2 separate regions of the Homo sapiens genome follow, and region 2 is linked to region 1. The links come from fine-mapping of genetic effects on gene expression. A gene starts in region 1. The other region holds a variant in brackets. All regions are shown on one strand. Distances are from middle to middle.

Region 1 (2,901 bases):
ATCCCCAAGGACGGACTTCCTCTTCTTGAGCCAGGGATGTGGCTCCCAGCCAGAGCTGAGGCTTTTGGTAAACACACGCATCTGTTCAGGCCTGACCTGTTTTCCTAATCTTCCTGGTCCACAGAGAGGCCTAAAGCTGGCCTCAGGTTAAAGTTTGACCCTAGGATGACCTATGACCCCAGGCTGAGACCCCAGCCTTAGGCTAAGCCTTTTATTCCAGAGTGAGGCAATTGGAGCCCCACCCCCAGATTCCAGGCTAGACCGGACTCCGGGCTGAACTCTGACCCCAGGTGAACTCCCTCTCTGCAAGTTGAGTCCTAACTTCAGCCTGAAACTCTGACACCCCCTCGTCCCCCACACCACACACTGAGGCTTAATCTCTGGTTTAGGCCACCGATCTGGACTAGCCCTGACTCCAGATTGGACCTGACCCCTTACCGGGTTGCTAATCCTTCTGGTTAAGCCTCTGGCCTCTATCCCCTATCCCCACGGTGGTGCTGACCTGGACTGAACCCCAATTCCAGTTTGAGTCTCTGAGCAGAGGTGAACTCAGAACTTTGCTAGGCTGAGCCCCCATTTGAGACTAGCCACAGAACTCACTGGGTTCAATTGCCCAACTGCAATCAGACATTTTCTAGCTCAGAAGCCACCAGCAGGTGGGGCCAGGTCTCAGCAGAGACATCAGTCCCAGTGTGGGCTCCCAAGGCTCTCCTCCTGGGCTCAGCTGTATCTCTCTGTTCTGGGAGCCTGGGTGCTCTGTGTAAGGGGAACGTATACCCAAGGGCCCCCCTGCAAGACGCCCAGCCTTGTCTGAGGCTGCAGAGAAAGCGCCAAAGCCCGGAGAGAATGGGAGTGGGAATCCCCAGTGCCTCCTCTCCTCTTTCATTCCAGCACCTCAAAGGGATTTACAAGGTGTGAACAGACTTTTATGGGAGAGGTGACAGACTTCCCTTCTCCAGGGCCCAGATGGCCCAGATGTCTGGGGGAGGGGCGGAGTCGGAATCTCAGGGGCAGTACTGAGAATGAAACCAGGTTAAACTGGAAAATGGGCAGATGCAGGCGCGAACTGGAAGGCAGCTGGGGAAAGGCCTGGGCCTGGCGCCCCAAGGACGGCCTGTCTTCAGTTTCCCAGCGGAGACTCTGGGGGAGGGAAGGCAGGATGCGGTGCGGGAGTTAATGGACCTGGCCTTGGCGAAGGCGCGTCCTGGGTTGGATCGAAACCCTCTCATCCGCCCTGTGGCCGGAGGGACCAGACCATTAGTGGGACGAACCTAGACGCCTGGAGCCGGGCCGGCTCGCAAGAACGGGGTGACCTCAGGTTGCCCCTGCAATGGGGTTGAGGAAGGACTTCTTGAGTTTGGGGTTTTAGTGTCTTGGCCCTTTAAGGAATAATTGCGGGGAAAGGGGAAAAGGAGATGGGAAGAACCGTTTGGAGCGGGGAAGGAAGATGAGAGGACGAGAGGGACCCCGGGGATTTGGAAAAAATGGGTGGGGGTTCTTTAAGGGGTCGGTCCAGCGGCGTCGAGTGGCAACGTTGCTTTAAAAGGGGGCGGAGCGTCCGTTGGGCCCCGCCCCCGAATCGCAGTGCTTGGGCTCCGCGCGGGTGGGGGCGTGGCAGAGCGTGCAGGGGGGCGGGGAAGAGTCTGGGGTGGGCGGGGCCGGGCGGGGCGGGGCGGGGCCAGGCGCACCGCCCTCGGCTGAGTCTCCCCGGGGAGGGCGGCGGGCGGCGGGCGGCGGGGACCGGGTGCGGTGGTGGCTGCGGCGGCGGCGGCGGGAGCAGCATGGATTGGGGCACTGAGCTGTGGGTAAGTCCAATCGGCCCGCCTCTAAGTTCCCCTTTGCTGGGGTCCAGGCACCCCCCTTTTGTCCCCAATGTATCTTAGAGGGGGCTCCGCGCCTTTCCCTTCCACCGACCCCTGGGTCCCCGCCCTCCACCCTCCGCTCTCTCTCGAAGTTTATCTGGGAGTCTCAGCACGCTCAGGGGCGAAGGGCGACTTTGCCGGACCGGAGTGGGGAAACTGAGGCACAGGGTTGCGAATGAGGCGGGCAGAAGGAATCCTGGGGCCAGGCCGGGGCGGCTGAGAGAGGTCACCTATTTTGGGCGCCCTGGCCGGGCAGGCGGCTTATCTTACGGCCCCTGGGTCCCTGCCCGTCGTCCGCCTGTCCGGCTAGGAGGGGGGAGGGGACCCTCTGGTCACCCTCATCCCCACCCACGTGGGACCTAGAAGTCCTGACCGCCCTTTCCCTCGCCTTTAATCAACACCTAGGGGCTGGGGACGCTCATGGAGGGGAAGGGGGATGCTAAGCTCGGCCTGATCCCCCTCCCTGGCTTCCCCCTGCTCACCCCAGGCCCAGGGCGGGACCGCCCCCTGGTCGCCTATAACCTCAGCCCTGGAAGCCCCAGAAATTTCCCCCTATCCTAGCCGGACCTCTGACCCCTCCCCTTGCTGGGGGCGGTGGAATCCCTGAGTTCTTAGTGCAGCGGGGGTAACCAGACTGCCACCCCCTCCTCCAATTCTGCGATTTCTTTTGGATGTGTAGTGGGGTCAGTGGGGTAAATTGAGTCACCCATCGGGGGATCCCTGGAAGCAGGGAGATTCAGGGAACCTGGTGCCTGCCCCCTGGCCACTCAGGGGCCCCCAGTCTGCCAGGAACCCTGCCCCTCTGGCCTTGACTCACGCCGGGCCGGCCGGATTTTCCGGAATCCGGGGGGATTAGGGGAGCCCGAGCTGGGGGAGTGGCCCTGTCCCCTTCCACGCCCCTCTTGGCGGTCCTATGTCGGAGACCTCCATCTCCCGGCCGGGGTGGCTGGGGCCTGGGCGCTGTTCTCCGGCCCTTCCCGGGAAGGGGAGGGGGTTCCCGCCAGTTTCCTGCCTCCCCCCGCGCCACGCCGGGGCGGCG
Region 2 (2,901 bases), 140 kb after region 1:
TCAGGAGGCTGAGGCGAGAGAATCGCTTGAACCCAGGAGGCAGAGGTTGCAGTGAGCCAAGATTGCGCCATTGCACTCCAGCCTGGGTGACAGAGTGAGACTCTGTCTCAAAAAATAAATAAAATAAAATAAAATAAATTTTAAAAGAAGAAAGACATTTTGCCTGTGCTTTAAGCCTTTGGGCCCAAGACTGCAGTATCACCTCTTACCTGAATCTGCAGCCTGTCAGATTGCCTTAGGGATTTCGGACTTGTAACCCCTACAATCCCGTGAGCCAGTTCCTTAAAATCACTCTCTCTCTCTTTCTGACTCTCTGTCTCCCTCTCTCTGTCTCTCTGTTTCTCCTCTTAGTTTTGTTTCTCTGGAGAATCTTGGATAATACAAGATCCTTTTAGTTTATTCCCTCTTTGTGTCTGGCTTCTTTTCTGTCTTTTTTCAAAAATTTGCATGAATGTATGAGGTACAAGTCCAGTTTTGGTACATGGATTACTGCTTAGTGGTGAAGTCTGGGCTTTTAGTGTAGCCATCACCCGAGCCATGTACATTGAACCCACTAAGTAATTTCTCATCCCTCACTCCCCTTCCACCCTTCCAAGTCCCCAGTGTCTATTATTCTACACTCTACGTCCATGTGCACGCATTATTTAGCTCCTATTTATAAGTGAGACTATGTGGATTTGACTTTCTGTTTCTGAGTTGTTTTATTTAAGATAACGGCCTTCAGTTCCATCCAGGTGTTACCAAAGACATGATCTCATTCTTTTTTATGGCTGAGTAGTATTCCACAGTTCATATATGTGGGGGGTTCAGTCAGAGTGGTTGGAAAAACTATAAGGAAAGGACTCAAACCTTCTGAAAGTTTGGAAGGTTCTGCAGAGCCCCGGGGGAGGAATAGCTGAAGGCAGCTGTTCTATAACCCTGAGGCAGAGGGCAAGGAGTAGGTACAAGGGAGTGTGGGCGAATTTATCTTAAGCAGGCCTGTTTACTTACGTTGACCAGGAACTGACTTTTGATCATCTGCCTATGTGATGTTCCCTGAAAGGGGAGCAATAAATGTTAATTACCTACAGGTTGTGTGTACTCCATGTTTTTGGCATTGTGCCCACACTGAACAAATGCAAGCAGCTCCAGCTTCTCGGGGCTGCTCTCTGGCCGCTAGAGCCAGGCAGTCACCTGGCTGCTCTTACACTGCATACCTGTGTCTGACTACTCATTTCATCCCATCGGCCAGGGTCTGCGGGACAGACCCAGTACACATACACCACATTTTCTTTATCCAGTTGTCTGTAGATAAGACACTTGGACTGATTTCATATCTTTGCTCTTGTGAATAGTGCTGTGATAAACCTACAAGTGTGGGTATTTTTTTGAGAAAATGATTTCTTTTCATCTGGGTAGAGTGGGACTGTCAGAACG[C/G]CTTCTCAATTTTTTTCTTTTTTTAGAGATGGGGTCTTCCTCTGTCACTCAGGCTGGAGTGCAGGGGTGCAATCATGGCTCACTGCAGCCTCAAATTCCTGGGCTCAAGCGATCCTCCTACCTCAGCCTCCCAAGTAGCTGGGACTACAGACTTGTAGTAATTTTTGTATTTTTAGTAGAGACGGGGTTTCACCATGTTGGTCAGGCTAGTCTCAAACTCCTGACCTCAAGTGATCTACCCACCTCGGCCTCCCAAAGTGCTGGGATTACAGGCATGAGCCATCACACCTGGCTCCCTCTTCTGACTTTTTGCTCTGTATCCTTTCACTGTAACAAATCATAACCATTAGCAAGACTATATGCTGAGTCTTCTTAGAGAATCATTGAGCTTGGGGAGGGGGGTCTCCGGGACGCCTGATAAACCACCCCTACCTTTAAAGAAAGAGCCTTAGGAGCCATAGATAAACCATGAAGTCTTTGGAGGACAATGAAGTCTTTGCATCCACCTCCCTCTTAGAAACCCTGATTCTTTTCTCCTGCAAAAGGGCAGCTGCTGTTCATTTCTCACCCCCTCAAGAATTGTGGTCTTCCTTCTGGGGAAGCGGGGTAGGGATGCAAAGTTCAGTAGATTCATCTATTTCTCTTCCCTTCTTTTTCCTCATTTGTTTCTTTATTTTCTAGGATACAACAGCCAATGAAATTCTTTCCCTGCCCTGAGAAAATGCTCAGTTTTTTGAGGGAAACAGACATTCAAGCAAGCATAGATAATACTGACTATGGTGATGGGGGGGGAGGATGGAGGAGGCGCCTCACTCTCAAGTGGAAGTCAAGGAAGGCTTCCTGGAGGAGGTGATATTTACACAGAAAGGTTGTATAGGATTGGGGTGAATGTGCATTTCAGACTTGGTGTCAAGAGAGAACTGGGTTTGGTGGCACATGCCTGTAATCCCAGCACTTTGGGAGGCTGAGGCAGGAGGATCGTTTGAGCCCAGGAGTTTGAGACCAGCCTGGGCAATAAAGCAAGATCTCATCTCTAAAAGAGAAAAAAAAAAATTAGCAGGGTATGGTAGGGTATGCTTGTGGTCTCAGCTATTTAGGAGGCTGAGGTGGGAGGATTGCTTGAATTCAGGCAGTTGAGGCTGCAGTGAGCTGTGACTGAGCCGTTGCACTCCAGCCTGGGCAACAGAGCAAGTCCCTGTCTCAAAAAAAAGAAAAGAAAAAGAGAGAGAGTTTGAAGTAGAACTTGCTGTGAGGTTTCTTGTGCACAGGTGTTTTTGAGGGAGAAGATCAGGACAGAGCAAGGGAATGAGCTAAGCAAGGAAGTGGTCTTAGCTGGAGTCCAGCCTTAGCCGGATCCCATGGGGAGCCCTGGAGTGTGACTGGTGCCACCAGGTTGGTCTCACCCTGGGGGCATGGGGCTGGCCTTCTGCACCTCTGTGACCATCCGTTATGGCTGTGGGCTGGGTCTGAGGGTTTGCACAGTTG

The links. PIP is the estimated chance that this variant, and not a neighbour inherited with it, causes the effect.
Region 2: its variant is the best candidate, but not a certain one, in a credible set for the expression of TRIP10 in monocytes (TOPMed, PIP 0.73).

What each region holds. Positions count from the first base shown.
Region 1 is chr19:6,737,981-6,740,881 of GRCh38, forward strand. It overlaps TRIP10 (thyroid hormone receptor interactor 10), which reads left to right and starts at 1,700. Exons shown (of 15, transcript NM_001288962.2): 1 at 1,700-1,805. The coding sequence starts at 1,782. RefSeq lists enhancers at 65-124, 257-1,025, 1,105-1,194, 1,215-1,344, 1,794-2,561 and silencers at 1,545-1,824, 1,865-1,954.
Region 2 is chr19:6,873,142-6,876,042 of GRCh38, forward strand. No RefSeq gene overlaps it. Among named protein-coding and RNA genes, the nearest start is that of ADGRE1, 13 kb to the right of the region's middle. The variant C/G (reference allele first, on the strand shown) is at 1,417.